Regions from separate parts of the Homo sapiens genome. Here region 2 is linked to region 1. The links come from fine-mapping of genetic effects on plasma protein levels. A gene starts in region 1. The other region holds a variant in brackets. All regions are shown on one strand. Distances are between the middles of the regions.

Region 1 (8,341 bases):
ATCAAAGTAATATACTCTAGCATGATCTTTTTCTTGACATTGCCACAGGAACACCTACCTGTCAGGAAGTTAAACCAAATGTCAATGATCATGGTATCATTACTCATCCTAAGAAGCTTGACTGGCCATCACTGGGTCTGGGTGCACTTCCTAAGCAGTGGTTGAGCCTGGAATTAACCCATAGTCCCAACTAGGTGCTAGGGGGCGCTATGCTGCAGCTCTCAGACAGCCAGGTGTCCTCTGGCTATCATAACCAATGCATATCATAACCTGGATATGCATTGTGTGGAGCCCTTTGAAGTCCTTGAATCTGGTGTCCATAGATTTTTTGTTTCCAGCAGAGTATTAGTATATTAATAATTTGGTGGGGGCTCACACCTGTAAGTGGGCAGATCATTTGAGACAAGGTGGGCAGATCATTTGAGCCCAGGAGTTTGAGACCAGCCTGGGAAATATGGCAAAACTTGGCTGGGCTCAGTGGCTCACACCTGTAATTCCAGCACTTTGAGAGGCCAAGGTGGTTGGATCACCTGAGTGAGGTCAGGGGTTCGAGACCAGCCTGGCCAACATAGTGAGCCCTGTCTCTACTAAAAATACAAAAATTAGCTGGGCAGGGTGGTGCGTGCCTATAGTCTCAGCTACTCGGGAGGCTGAGGCAGCAGAATCACTTGAACCTGGGAGGTGGAGGTTGCAGTGAGCTGAGATCACATCGCTGCACTCCAGGCTGGAGACAGAGCAAGATTCCGTCTCAGCAAAACAAAAACAATAGATGTTGGTGTGGATGTGGTGAAAGGGAATGCTTATACACTGCTGGTGGAAATGTAAATTAGTACAACCTTTATGAAAAACAGTGTGAAGATTTCTCAAAGAACGAAACTGGACCTACAGTTTGATACAGCAATCCCATTACTGGGTATCTACCCAAGTGAAAAGACATCAATTTGTCAGAAGGACAACTGCATGCATATGTTTATTGCAACACAATTCACAATTGCAAAGATATAGAACCAAACTAAGTGCCCATCAACCAAAAATATGGAACTAAACTAAGTGTCCATGTCCATCAAATGATGAGTGGATAAAGAAAATGTGGTATATATACACCACGGAATACTACCCAGCCAGAAGAAAGAATGAAATAATGTATTTTGCAGCAGTTTGGGTGGAGCTGGAGGCCATTATACTAGGTGATTTAACTCAGGAATGGAAAATGAAATACTGTATGTTCTCACTTATAAATGAGAGCAAAGCTATGGGTACAAGAAGGCATATCTTTGAGAGGTATAACAGACTTTGGAGACTCACAAGTGGGGAGCTTGTGAGTCTACTAGGGAGGCTGAGGCAGGAGAATCTCTTGAACCCGGGAGGTGGAGGTTGCAGTGAGCCAAGATAGTGCCACTGCACTCCAGCCTGGGCAACAAGAGCAAAACTCCATCTCAAAATAAATAAATAAATAAATAAAGGAATAATTTGTAAAAACAAACACTGTTCAAGGGTAACTAACCAGAAAAATGAACACAACTAGACAAGGTACTCAAAAGGGCTTCCTCAAGACAGTGACATTTATTTTGGGCTTTTATAAAAACAAATTTGGATTAAAGTTGTAAGGGGACCTATTAGACAAAGAAGATAGCTGACTTTTGTGCAGGGGAAGGAAAACAGACTTTGTTTCAAATAGTTGTAGAACCTTTAAAACTATTGGCACATTTCTTCTCACACTGTAAGACTTAAGATGAACAGAAAAATGTATTTAGCAAACAATCTACTACATCTACTCCTGATGTTTTTTCTTCTAATTATTGAAAATCTCAGCTATATTTTTCTTATACAAAATAGTCCCAAAATGTTCTAATGTTGACTGTCTTTTAAAGTTGTTTTTCCTCTAAATTTTACTTGATAAATCATTTTAAATTCGTTTGTACAATTTTTGAATTTGTTCTCTTACATGACACTAGATAATTGTAGACCAGGCAAAGTTTGTATACTAACTGACTCCCTGTCTACCATCTGGTGTTCCCCGCCCCCGCCACCATAAGTGGAACAAACTTCCTTCCAAAAAAATTTACAGCAGTCACAAACTGCTGTTTATGATCATTTTAGATATAAAATTCCATAACTCAAGTTAGCATTGACATTTTATAAGTGCTGTCAAGTCACTCTAGGGAATGAAAATGAGCATCTCACTATGTGCTCTGAAGTGGGGACATATTTCTCTGCTTGTTATGGACGGTGAGAGATGGCTAAATTGAAGCAGAGAAATATTTCAGTGATGCAGAGCAAAGGTGACTTCCTGTTTTGTTTCAGGTTTTGTTTCCTTCTCCTCTCAATGAAGGCTGTGTTTTCTGACATTCGGCAATCCTTTTGCTCAGTGATTTCCCATTGAGAGGGCATAGTGTGAAGGCCTCTGCAGGTCATTCCATTTACAATATAAGCTGAAAGGGTAGAGTGGGGCGGGGGTGGGGGGAAGAGGGAGCTCATTAGTGGAAGAAGCAGACCAGGAGGGGATCTGTTTTCCATTTTCTCCTCCAGATTGAACTCATCTGGATGGAAAGGTTTTGATTGTTGTTATAATCATCATTATTACCTGCGTGATGTCGTTTTCCTACACTTTTTTTTTAAGTGTCGGGCAGAATTGTTGCTGAGAATAACAAATAATATCTGCCATGTTATCCGTGAGCAAAATCAGAAAAAAAAAGTCCAAGTGTATTAGAGCTGTTAGTTTCCACGTTAACCCTTAAGGAGCAAAGCTCAAGAGTTCTAATTCCACTAGGTGGGGGGGGCGGGAATAGAAGGAAAAAACCCCTTTTCCTTGCTTCTGGTGGCCTATTTGTAGTCATGAACAGCATTTCTTTGTTTCTCTCTCTCTTTTTTTTTTTTTTTAAAGGCAATCCTCCCCCCACCTCCTCCCCCGCAGTTATTGAAAATGGAGACCTCTGTAGTCACTAGCTCTGGGTTGATATGGCTCCACCGTTGCTCGCAGGGGTCTGTGTTTTCCGCTACTTGGACAAAGTGACATTGCTTAAGCCTTTCCCCCCACCAGGTCTGACTTTCTGCAGAGCCAGTGATTGCAGAGGAAAAGCTGTAGTTTGCTTAAAGGAAATACCTCCAGGAAGGAGGGTCTCGGGTGGGTTCCCAAGTGGGGAACTAGGGGGACTTTTCCGTAGGGAATTGGGGTGGGCTCTTCAGTGAGGGGCTAGGGGCTCGTTTCTGGGGCCAAAGACGGGTTCCCTAGTGTGAGGGCGCGCTCGACTCGGCGCTGTCTTGGGGTCTCGCACTCGCACGGCTTCGCACCCCACCGCCTGCGACTCCCAGGCCTTCTCTTCCCCGGGCGCCCACTCCATTCTCGGGAAGAGCAGCCGGCACTGGAGGGCAGAGACTGCCCCAGGGGCGGAGCTCCCTCTCAGGCGGGAGGTAGGAAAGTGCAGAGCCGCCCGGGCAGAGGCACAGACGTCCCTGCGGGGCTCCTCCTGAGCGTCCCTCCTGCCAGCCAGGGTCGCAGCCGCAGCGGCGGCCGCAGCTCTTAGCCCACACAGGACTTGTAAACTCTTACTGCACCCTTCTCTCCCATTAGGAGCTTTTCCTCCCTCCTTCCCCCCAACCCCTCTGTCCTCCTCACTTTGGGGAATTTAATGCTTTCTTTAGCATCTTTTTGTGTGCGTGATCTAGGGGAGGAGACACCCCAGAGCTCCAACTAGCTCTCAGCTGAATTCTACTTTTGTTTTTATGTCTTCCTCGCCTCCTCTCGTGTCCCTCTTATCTGACTGATCTGCGAAGTCTGATGCTTCTGCCAGAGGGAGAGGAATAAATAGATGTTGCTGCTTCCGAAGGCTTAGACGTTGGGAAAGAGCAGCCTGGGCGGCAGGGGCGGTGGCTGGAGCTCGGTAAAGCTCGTGGGACCCCATTGGGGGAATTTGATCCAAGGAAGCGGTGATTGCCGGGGGAGGAGAAGCTCCCAGATCCTTGTGTCCACTTGCAGCGGGGGAGGCGGAGACGGCGGAGCGGGCCTTTTGGCGTCCACTGCGCGGCTGCACCCTGCCCCATCCTGCCGGGATCATGGTCTGCGGCAGCCCGGGAGGGATGCTGCTGCTGCGGGCCGGGCTGCTTGCCCTGGCTGCTCTCTGCCTGCTCCGGGTGCCCGGGGCTCGGGCTGCAGCCTGTGAGCCCGTCCGCATCCCCCTGTGCAAGTCCCTGCCCTGGAACATGACTAAGATGCCCAACCACCTGCACCACAGCACTCAGGCCAACGCCATCCTGGCCATCGAGCAGTTCGAAGGTCTGCTGGGCACCCACTGCAGCCCCGATCTGCTCTTCTTCCTCTGTGCCATGTACGCGCCCATCTGCACCATTGACTTCCAGCACGAGCCCATCAAGCCCTGTAAGTCTGTGTGCGAGCGGGCCCGGCAGGGCTGTGAGCCCATACTCATCAAGTACCGCCACTCGTGGCCGGAGAACCTGGCCTGCGAGGAGCTGCCAGTGTACGACAGGGGCGTGTGCATCTCTCCCGAGGCCATCGTTACTGCGGACGGAGCTGGTGAGTTTTGACACGGCCCACCCTTCCCTTACCCTACAGCCTCCTCAATTCTTGGAGTCCTTGTTACTAGCCTTTACTCTCTAATTTTTTTCTCTTCGGATCACTTAATCTCTCCCATAACTGCTCCTCTATCAAAGACCCTTCTTCTTCTTTCTTCTTTTTTCAAAAACAAAAACAAAAAAACCCTCACCTTATCACCTTCCAAACTGATGCACTCTGGCACTGTGTTCCAATAGGCGATCTTTCTAAAACAATCCATGCATTCCAAACCCATCACACTTCTACTCCACAGGAATCCTTCACTTCAACTCCTTACATGTGCAAGTAGCCACATTTTGTAAAGTGATGCTCTTTTTCTTTTAAAATGTGTTTATAATCATTGGGTTTTCTTTGCTGATTCTCAGGCAATCTCAGTCATCAGGTTTCTGTATCTTTAGTGTCTTAGATGCTTGTTAAGATTGTGTGGAGGAAACAGAAAACTGAAGCCCCATTTTCTTCTAATTAAAAATGCCAAGATAATTTCAATAACCTTACTCTAACCGACAGATGTTAGGGGTATGTGTTTGCTCAAGATCCAGTTTGAGCAATTACCTTCACCTTAAATTTCCCCCTCCTTTCAATGAGATAAATTGTTCTTCCATTCCAGAATGAAACAATTGTGAAACATTGCTATGCACTGTTAATTAGCTTCTGTGGCTTGCCATAGAGCTGGCAGACTGAAATTACTGAGCTCTTTTCACATGCCCACATGCCTTCAAGTCATTTTATAAGTGGCATACAGATGAAAGGAGTTATATTTAAGGCGTGTTATCATACACTCACGTAATGTTATTTTAAATCTCACCCCTTATTCCACTCTCATGTTTTGAAAAAAAAATTGTCTTTAATACCTTATTTCATGCTCCTTTTCCGTGTGTGCACCAACCACAGTCATTTCAGTCTTTCCCTACCATAAAACTTTATTGCAGCTCTAAATTTAATGGAGTCAATCACAAGTTGTTTTCTCACTAGTGTTTAGTCTAATTATGACATTTGTAACTTTAAGACCCCAACTAAACCTACTTCATTATGGTCCATTTAATTCTAACTCAGTATTACTTCTACCAACTAACCCAACCTCAAATTTTACCCTTCATATATTTTATAAAGAAGGCAATTTTTTTTCATGAGTGGTCCTCTTTCATACCACATCCCCCACCCCCCAACAACTCTGTTCTTAGATGTGTTGACTTGGTTGCCTCCATCTGTTTATTTCTTGGGCATCAACTTTCCTTCCTCTTTCAACTTGCGCAGTCTAGGCGCATGTCCCCAGTCCATTTCCAGGTAGTAATTCTTAGTTATCGGGAAATTGATTTGGAAAAATTACCTTCTGTGCACGTTGACTCATTTAACAAAGTGAGAGAAGGAGAAGTAATTGTAAAAATAGCTGAAGGAAAAAAAATAAACAGAAGAATTTCAAGAACTTTTTAATGGTGACCTCACTTAGTTTATCACTTTTTGAATATACCTATTGTCTTCTTGATTTTAATCAAGAACCAAAAGCTAGTTGTGCAAAATCATCACAGAAATGTATTTGCTATTAATCTTTGCTAAAAGAGCATGCTTGAGGCTTCGTACTCACTAAAGTCACAGACTGCAGAGTCTGGAAGTGCTCAGTGCAGTTGCCGCTCTGGTTTGCCAGGCACTTAGAATCAGTTAAATGCAGGTGCTCCTCTCAGGCCAAGGGCTAGGAATGAGGTGGCAGTGGTTCAGGCTGAAATGCATTCCTCCCCGTAAAGCACAAAACTTGCTCTTAAACCTCCCTTAGAGGTGGACCTAGAGTGAGTGAGGTTTGGCAAGGTTAATGGCTCTCAAAAAGCCATAGTCAATATGGATAGGAAGCAGTTTCATTAAGTGTCCCTGAGTTACCAATCACTGTGGAACAAACATGGAAACAGTTGCCTCATTGAAGCACTCAAATAGGACATGCATGGAAACAATTTGTCAGTTCATGGGACCTGATTTCTAAGCTTCTTTAAAATGCCAGAGTATTTGCTTTACTGGCAGCATCCTTGCTAGAAAAATAGGTGGTAGTTGGAATCATAGTTAGTGATGGCATCCCTGCTCCCTTCCATAAGCTTCAGTGTGAACCAGAGGCTATGATGGCAAGGGGAGCTCAAAGGTGGGGGGAGGTGGAAATTGGGAATGAAGTGTGTAGATTGTAGCCTGAAGGGTCTCCTGGCTTCCAGGGCCAGCTTGTTGAAAATTACATTCCCTATGCTGGGTCAAACTGTCAGACACCTGGAATTACTTAGGAACTACCACATGTGGCCAGTGTAATTTACCATGCAATATCCAATATACTCTTTGGTTCAGTGGGAAGTGATAGTTCACAAAGCAAGGTTTTTTTCTTATTCAACTGGGTATAAACAGAATCCCTGTGTCTTTTGACTAGTATCTGTCCAACTAGATATAAAAATGAGGTCTCCCTGAATAAAATAGGACAATCTTTCACATTCTTCTGATGCCAAGAGGATTTTCAAATCCTACCCATTCATGGGGATCTGTTCTCTCATAGTATATCATGACTCCACAAACAAGCTTAGGACCTTTTACAAAGCAGTCTTACTGAAATGGAGTAATGCTTGAAACTACTTTTTGCTTTCAAAATACTAAGGGTAATCATATTTTTGAAAAGAACGGGTTCCATCCTGACCATTATTATTCATCTTACACATTTTATATTTGCATAACTTTGTGTGACTACATGTACAACTGATTATCTGAAAACTCAGCTCAATTGAGTCATTCAGCAAGTTAGTGATGACATTCAGTCAAATCTTTAATATTGTGTGGTGAGTAAAGAGGATAGGCTTGGAGTGGGGCAGACCAGGTGTGAATGACTCTGCCCCGACATCAACTATTGTTATAGGAAAATTATATGACCTCTGTAATTCAAAGTTTTCTTATCTGTAAAATTAGGACAAAACTATCTACATCCCAAGGGCATGGTAAAGATGAAATTAAAGCTGGTGCAGTGGCTCACTCCTGTAATCTCAGCACTTTGGAAGGCCGAGGCGGGTGGATCACTTGAGGTCAGGAGTTGGAGACCAGCTTGGCCAACATGGTGAAACCCTGTCTCTACTAAAAATACAAAAATTAGCCTGGGATGGTGGTGCGTGCCTGTCGTCCCAGCTACTCCAGGAAACTGAGGCAAGGGACTCACTTGAACTCCGGAGGTGGAGGTTGCAGTGACCTGAGATGGCGCCACTGCACTCCAGACTGAGCGACAGAGCCAGACTGTGTTTCAAAAAAAAAAAAAGAAAAGAAAAGAAAAGAAATTAAACAGCATATAAAGCATTGCTTTAGTACTTAGTAAGCACTGAAAAAAGTGCTGCTGCTGTTTTACTATTATCACTGTTAAAACAAATTGACTAACATTTTCTATTTTGTTTTTGAAATGGTTATGTTGGTAAATGCAGATGCAGCCTAGAACTTTTATTAGTTCATCTCTGGGGAAAAACAAAACAAAAAAGCTTTACACTGGGACCTAACTGGAAAAACAAATCTTATTTCTTCTAAATATATAAAGTTAGTATTTCCTTTTACACAAATTGACCTAGACCTCAGGCTCAAGAGCAGATCCCCTTGGGAGCGACAGAAAAAAGAATGAGTCTGGTGGAGGAGTTAATTACAAATAATTCATCTCAGAAACCCAGGAATCAAGCAGTTAAGAAAATTTATGGTATGATATTTCACAGCTATTTCCACAACACCTACAGTTTGCCGTGCCAAGGGCTTTATAATCATTCCTCAGTCAGTGCTGGCTTC
Region 2 (8,323 bases), 33 kb after region 1:
ATCTAACTACAGTTGCCCTAATGTCTCTTCACAAGGAGTCTAGCTGTAGTCCAGTCCTGGTAGGGTGGTTTCATGTTGTCAGGCTCCTTCTAGCTTATCACTCTACCATTTTTAAAGGCATCGCTTTCATACTCATGTTCACCTGGAGGTCACAAGATGGCTGCTCTGCCTCTAGTATCACATGTACATTTCAGGCAGGAAAAAGAGGAGGTAAAAGGGATTTCCAAGAGCCTCATCAAGCAGTTTTTACTTAGCTGCAAAACAGGCTAGAAAATGTAGTCTTTTTAAACCTGGGGATATTGCTTCTTTGAACAAACTGCAGTTTGTGAGAAGGGGAGAATAAATGATGGGAAGGAAAATAAACAATGATGTCCGATGAATAAACAGCAATTCCTATGTACAAAGTGTAGCTACATTCATCTGTATAGAAGAGATCTGAATAAATTAGGTCCTTAGAGCAGTAATGTAGCCTTATTTTTAAGCCAAATAACTCTTAGATTGTGGAATTGATACATTTTTTAAAATCACATAGTACAGTACTGTATTATAGAAGGTTTTGTTTCTTCTTACTGCACTAAGCAAATCTGTTTTAAAGAAAAGAATGGGGTGGGGGAATGCATGGGGGGACAAAAAAATCTCAAAGGATGTGTGGGTGGGTGGGGGGAGTGGGAACTGTACCAAACATAATACATCCTCTTCCTTCTGCAAGTTTGAAGGCTTGGGAAACATTTACATGGTAAGTTAAACACCCCTGGGCGGTTTATCTTATACATCTGGCACTTGACACGGCAGACACGTTTGGGTTTAAGTGACCTACAAAAATGTAGAGGGCATTATTTTGTAAGGAGAAACTACCCTCCAGTAAGTTCTTCTCCCCTTTAGTAGATTTGTCAAAAGGGAGATGCATTTCAAGTTCAGACTTGCGGGCATTCTCTCTGCATCTCTCTTCAATTAGTTTGGTGTTTATTAAAGAAAAAAGTGGCTCTTGTTCAGTATGTTGGAATCTCTTACTGTCTTTAATTTGGTTTTCTGCTTGCTAATGCAGAACTGGAATTTGTCCTAAATTCCTGTACCAGTTGGAAAAGCTTTCAATATCCCTGCTGCGAAGCATGTAACAAGGCTTACTGCTCCTCTTTTGGTACCAAAACAATATCATTGTGTTGTTGACAGGACACATGGCTTGTTTGTCCTGTTTCCCATTGCTTTCTGCAATATTTCCCATTGTTTTCCGCAGGGGACTTGCAGAGTTATTATTGTAAAGTCATTTATATTCTCAGTCTGGATTTAAATATTCTAAAGGAAAGAAACCAATAATTTGAACAATTTTAAATTCATATGCAGATATTGAGGGCTAAAGAGTTTGGGTAGAAAATCTCCTTTGGCCAGAATTATTGAGATTCCTATTTTAGTTTTCCAGTCAATTTGAAGATGTGTAAAAAGAGTTTTATGGAGGATGTTATTTTTTCAATCAGATTTGCTCTTAGCTGAGTTTTGCTCTCAGTGGATGAATCAATAATTTTATAAGAAACATTATTATGTTTTTTTCATGCAAATGGTTGTTTACCTAAGTCTCTTATAGCAGAC[G/A]ATTCAAGATGTTTGGACTTCCTTGGGAAGTTGAGAATCAGACTGTTTTTAAAATATGAAGACAAGATTGTGGAGTAAAGAATACTGAAATGAAGAATTACCTTCAGTAACAGAAAAACAATAACACATTTACTATGTGCTAAGCACTTTATATTTTTATTAATCTTCAGATGTATCTACTTATAAGTAGATTCTATTATCAGTTCCAACATATACATGATGAAAATGAGGTCTAGTAAGTTCAAGAAACTTCACACAGTAAGTGGTGGAGTTAGAATTTGAACTTGGGCCATCTGACCCAAGGATCTGATGGTGCTTGCTCTTTAAAGTGTGGTCCCTGGATCAGCAACATAGGTATCACCTGGGAGCTTGTTAGTAATGAAAATCTTCGGCCCTGTCTCAGACCTGCTAAATGAGAATTTGCAATTTTAACAAATTCCCCATATGATATCCGTGTTTGAAGTTTGGGAAGTACAGCTGTAGTTCGTATTCCCTACCTATCCTCATGTAATATAACTTCCATTTAACTTAAATTACATGAAAATATTATTGACATTGTTAATATGAAATATTACTAAACTTGATTGTGTTTATTAAAAACATTGCTAATACCTGCTTTGTAACACTTAGAACGAGGGCAGGACCTTGTCTGTTTTATTCATTGTACTTAGTGGATATTACTTAGAAAAATATTTTTGAGACCCCCCCATCCCTCAAAAAAATTTCCATTTTTTTTTCACTGCTCAAATCACATAGACTTTAAAAGGCTATGTTCTTATGTGTATTAAGAGAGGATGTTGAAAAATAGCCTTCCCTTCAAATTCTGTGTGTAAATCTTCCATTTGTTGAGTATCTGTGAAGCACTAGCCTCCTGTATGTTACCTCAGGAAATACCCAGAGATATAGGGAGATATTTCTGTCATCATTTATAGACATGGACATTTTAAGTTTAAGGTTTGATAAGAAAGCATTACTAAATACATTATAGATGTTGCGCTTGTTAAAGTCAGAGAATAATGTTCATATTGCATCAGTTTTCTTGTTACCCTGGGAAATAGATTGATACTTTTGGAAAAGTAGCAAAATGCTTCAGAGATCTGAACTTGCAGTCTGACCCAGTTGTTAGAATCATGGAAATAATGACCCTGGTGATATGTGCTTGTGACTATTTTCTATTTTAAATTTCACAGCGCTGGGATATGAAGCTTCGTCATCTTGGACTCAGTAAAAGTGATTCTAGCAATAGTGATTCCACTCAGAGTCAGAAGTCTGGCAGGAACTCGAACCCCCGGCAAGCACGCAACTAAATCCCGAAATACAAAAAGTAACACAGTGGACTTCCTATTAAGACTTACTTGCATTGCTGGACTAGCAAAGGAAAATTGCACTATTGCACATCATATTCTATTGTTTACTATAAAAATCATGTGATAACTGATTATTACTTCTGTTTCTCTTTTGGTTTCTGCTTCTCTCTTCTCTCAACCCCTTTGTAATGGTTTGGGGGCAGACTCTTAAGTATATTGTGAGTTTTCTATTTCACTAATCATGAGAAAAACTGTTCTTTTGCAATAATAATAAATTAAACATGCTGTTACCAGAGCCTCTTTGCTGGAGTCTCCAGATGTTAATTTACTTTCTGCACCCCAATTGGGAATGCAATATTGGATGAAAAGAGAGGTTTCTGGTATTCACAGAAAGCTAGATATGCCTTAAAACATACTCTGCCGATCTAATTACAGCCTTATTTTTGTATGCCTTTTGGGCATTCTCCTCATGCTTAGAAAGTTCCAAATGTTTATAAAGGTAAAATGGCAGTTTGAAGTCAAATGTCACATAGGCAAAGCAATCAAGCACCAGGAAGTGTTTATGAGGAAACAACACCCAAGATGAATTATTTTTGAGACTGTCAGGAAGTAAAATAAATAGGAGCTTAAGAAAGAACATTTTGCCTGATTGAGAAGCACAACTGAAACCAGTAGCCGCTGGGGTGTTAATGGTAGCATTCTTCTTTTGGCAATACATTTGATTTGTTCATGAATATATTAATCAGCATTAGAGAAATGAATTATAACTAGACATCTGCTGTTATCACCATAGTTTTGTTTAATTTGCTTCCTTTTAAATAAACCCATTGGTGAAAGTCTTTTTTTTTCTCTTCTTTTAAAATAAATCAGAATTGCCGTATTGACCAGGAAAAGATTATGTATGCACGTGCACCAGGGTTAGTTTTTAAAAGTACATGGCTCCATAAAAATGCTGTAGATTACAGAGTGATAAAATATGCAGGTTTTTTTGTTTTTGTTTTTTCTGTTGTGTGTGTGTCTGTATTTGTGTACATGTGTGTCCTTGCACTCACACCCAAGGTGGATTAAAATACAGGCCTGCAAACTGGCCTGCACTTTATCATTTGGATTTGTGCTGCTTAATGCTCAGCGAAAAATGTCTAGTAAAATGAATTATGGTTGTCAGGAGAGAGGTTATTTCGACTTTTGAACCAATTGCACATTTCTCATTACCCAAGCTGTGGTGAGATCCCAGGGGCTGTGGTGAACAAATGATGCTTTTATAGATGGTCCCTAGCTTACAATGATTCAATTTACAATGCTTCAATTTAACAATTTGTTGACTTACAATGGGTTTATCAGGATGTAACCCAATGCATTTCAACTTACGATATTTTCAGTTTCGAATGGGTTTATCCAGATGTAACCCCATCGTAAATGGCGGAGCATCTGTACTTCCTTCCTCTGGCAGAGTTCCTTAGAGCCTGTGCCAATTACTTGAAAGTTTCATTCTCTGCCATTTACATGTGTGCTATTAGTAGAACCAAATTTCTAAGCTGTGGCGTGCTGAAAATAAAATGCTTATGAAGCAAAAATCGTGCTATGTTTCCTTCTACAAGGATAATCAAGCAAGGATGAAATTCATTCCTGAACAAAAGTTTCCTAAAATGGTAAATAATCATCTATCTAAATGTTCTATTTTAAAAGTGTGAGCTGGGTGTGGTGAGTGCACCTGTAATCCCCACTACTTGGGAGGCTGAGGAAGGAAGACGGCTAGAGCCCATGAGGTTGAAGCTGCAGTAAGCTATGATTGCGGCCACTGTACTCCAGCGTAGGCGATAGAGCATGACCCTGTCTCTGTAACAACAACAAAAGTGTGAAAGTTCATTCTACAAATTGGAGTCACTCATATCATACCCAACTAAAATGGAGTCGGGAGGCCATGGGGAAAGGCACCCAGGTCCCTGTTCCAGGAACCATTTTTGCAGTTCAACAGAAAAATCACGAAGACCTAACTCTAACCTTAAGATAAAGTTACCTAGCTGCTGCCACTCACCAATCAGAACTTGCTAGATCCTACAAGACGCGCCTGGCTCCAGTGAACTTTCATTCAAAACCATTTAGATCACCTTCCTCTCTTCCCCAATAAAACCCCAGCCTTTCTCTTTGTTCTTTGAACACAACTAGAGGCTACACTGGTTTGTGTGCCCAGAATTACAATTCCAATTCTTATATTCCCAAATAAACCCTTTACTTGGAGATTTATCTCCCTATATTTAAAGGTGACAGAGTAAGGGAACATTCCTGCCTTCTGATTGACTCTCCAAAGCCAACAATTTCCCCAGCCCCAGAAGAAAACATTCCCACCTTTGCCTATAGGACTGCATAGTCTTTTGAGCTTCCAAAAGACCACTTCCAAAGGGCTTGCCATCTGCCCATTGTTGCTATATTCTCAGATGGCAAGGACATCTCTTTTGAGGTGCTGATGTCCTACCCTTAAAAGGTGAGTTGGGTGTCACTGGGGAGTAATGAAGCGCCACCGTGGATGGACTGCCCCTGAGAATCTCTCTTCCTGGTATGTAAGCCTCAACTTGAGCCTGAGGACAGAGGGGTGGAAAGTAGTGCTGGTGCCTCAGCCTGTTTTCCTCAGGCTTTCTCACGTTAACTCTGTAAAGAAGGACAAGAATTGACTACAGGAGAGGTTTAAAGGAACCGTTATCTCAAATCCACAAACCTCAACTCTCTCAATGCACAGTAAGCAATGTTAAGTAAGGAACTCTTTTGATGTATAAAAGCTGCAGATGTTTCCAGCTTCTGCAGTTTTTTTTGGGGGGTGGGGGTTGGGTAAAGGGGGTATGATCAGTTTCTGTGTAGGAATTTGACACACTTTATGCTTAATATAAACAAAACACGGCCAGATTCTTAGATTCAGCAGTTTTTTTTTTTTTTAAACCACCTTCCATTCGGTGCCATTTTACAACCTACTGTTTTACCACTACCATCTATAGTGGCAATGTTTGATTTTGCTCACCTATATGAGGCTTCTGTCAGCTGTTTAAACATTTCTAATGGTATAAAGCCCATGAATAAAGTACATTTGGTTTTTCAGTTTGATAGCTACAATATCTTCATTAATAAACTGTGCAGACCTCTTTTGGGAGGATGGCGTGATTTATCATGATGGTCACGTTTCTCAGGAGACTGCAAAACCATTTCTACTCTAGTTGCCATAGTACAAAGACACCTCGTTAATGCCTCTCTATAGGGTTTTCTTGCAGATAGTAACTTTTAAAGCCACTAAAAATTTAATATACATGCATCCTTGTCAGTAACCTTGAGATTGATAAAATTTATATTTCTTTAAAAAATTTTATTCAACTTTAGGATTTTAATTTTCTTAGCCAAATTAAAGTCAGATGCATGCTGAATAAAGTAGCAAATACTTAAATAGCAGCAAACATGGATTCTCTTTTCATGGATATGTATTTTACTGTGTCACATACAATGTAATCTGATTCAGTGCCATATGTTGCACCCAGCATTCAGGGATGGGGTGAGACAAACTGTCTTTCCACATGTGTTACACATTAAGAAGGCAAAAACAAAAGTTATAATCACTGTGAGCAAATAGCACTACCTATTGCCTTCTGCAAGAAATTATTTGCTGTTACATTTCAACAAGTAAAATGACTAAAGGTATTTCAAGATTGACATTTAGCACTGAGTTTTAACATATTTTAATACACAAAAATTCAAGAAGATGGTAAAAATAAAGCAGAGACTTCTAATATGGTGTTACTGAAATCCAGCCTATAAAATTTAAAAGTATGGTACCCAGATGTATTAATATTAACAAAAACAGTATAGTCATACCTTTCATAATTATCTGTTTGGGGTAATAACATCTAACAGTGGCTGGAACTCTATATGAAACACTTGTGCATATGTTACCTCACTTATTCCTTGAAAGTTGTTGAAGTAGATGTTTTATTCCCATATAACAGATTTTTTTTTTTTAAATGAGTATTTAGAACTTCAGAGTTGTGTAAGTAGCAGAGCTGGGCCTTAGATCCTCATAATCTTATTTCCCAAATTATATGTTTTCCACCACTGCAATTTCTGATAAAAAGGTAAATGCATCCTAGCACTGTAAAAAAAGAAAAAGCATAGTGTCAGGCATATAGTGGTAGCTATTGCTATTATTGGATTATAATAAATAATAATATAAATATAACAATAGCTATTATTTCTTAAACTGAGGTCTACCAACTATGTTAGAAAGCCTATATAATATAGGCCCAACTCTAATCCAAGATACAGTCACTTCACATCTTCAGGTGTCCTCCCTTATGAAATCAGAATTTCAGTAGAATTATTTCCATACAGACAGGCAGGTGAATTAAGTAATTTTGGGGGCATTAGTTGTTTAAAAATGTGTGACTCTCAGAAAAGCATTTTTCAAGGTTTCTGTTTTCCCTTGAATTTGTAGAAAAGTAAACAGTTAATTGTATTCAACAACACCTGGAAGAAAGTTGAAATTAAAAGTTGATAATTATTACAAATAAAACGAGAACGACTACTTCCACTGGGAACTCCCATTTCTCCTTTTTAGATTATGCCCCCTATGTTTCCCACCACCAGAGTCCTCCATAATCTAGAAAAACTATTCCACCTGACCTAATTCCCCCTGCTTTTCATTCATTAAGTATTTTCACTATGACAGGGATTCAACATGTTAATACAACTAAATATGTTTTTCTTCCGATGAAATGCAAACGTTTGTCATGTTTCTACTTAGGTGGTTGTTGAGAACTTGAGGAGTTGTCCCATGAAGAAGGAAAGGTTGTGCTCAAGGAAATTTGTCCAAAAAAAAAAAAAAGGATTTGTGGGCTGTTGAGGAAACTGACACAGAAATGAAAGAAAATGCGGGAAAGAATTTTCTACTCACCACAGGGATGTGGAGGGGAATGACCCCACTCATTACACAGTGGTACTGTGGCCACTCTTGCAAACAGCCACCACCTCCCTCCCCACACACTTAGCATCACGATGTGAGGTTGATGTTATGATTGCAGGGTTGGACTTAGGATAGTCTGGGGCCTCAGCAAGGGTGGGTCGGGTGATGTCTGAAACATAGGATAGCTCTGAGATGTTAAGAAGTCAATGAAACAGGGAACAAAGGATTTCTTGTTTATACTGGGTGGTAAATCCAATAAATAAAGCAGATGCAGTTCACTCTAATGTCTTTATTTCTACATTATTTTGGTGATTCTGAGGGAATCATGGCTTCCCAGAGATGGTATTCCTGTCCTAGCACTGAAAAGAAGAATTTGAGTTGAACTGTGGGACAACTTGGCAAAAGGAGAGATCAATATGAACAAAATTCCTATTGGAAAACTTTCTCTACGACCTAAAACTCAAGTAATATATCAAAGCTTTAAAAGATGCATGAT

Direction of the effects. Alleles are on the strand shown, and positions count from the first base shown. The strength of an association depends on the size of the effect and on how common the allele is.
For the plasma level of the protein whose gene starts at base 3,969 in region 1, allele A in region 2 goes with a higher level than allele G (weak association).

Evidence for each region. A credible set is the group of variants that fine-mapping cannot tell apart. PIP is the posterior inclusion probability: the model's chance that the variant is causal. The UK Biobank Pharma Proteomics Project read protein levels with antibody pairs (Olink). The fine-mapping took linkage between variants from a reference panel, not from the people measured, so its PIPs are less certain.
Region 2: its variant is the best candidate, but not a certain one, in a credible set for the plasma level of the FRZB protein (UK Biobank, PIP 0.87).

Annotation. Positions count from the first base shown.
Region 1 is chr2:182,862,265-182,870,605 of GRCh38, reverse strand. FRZB (frizzled related protein) reads left to right here and starts at 3,969. Exons shown (of 6, transcript NM_001463.4): 1 at 3,969-4,531. The coding sequence starts at 4,054. RefSeq lists an enhancer at 3,838-4,806.
Region 2 is chr2:182,829,417-182,837,739 of GRCh38, reverse strand. It overlaps FRZB (frizzled related protein), which reads left to right. Exons shown (of 6, transcript NM_001463.4): 6 at 2,775-4,465. The coding sequence ends at 2,891. Among named protein-coding and RNA genes, the nearest start is that of FRZB, 33 kb to the left of the region's middle. The variant G/A (reference allele first, on the strand shown) is at 1,585.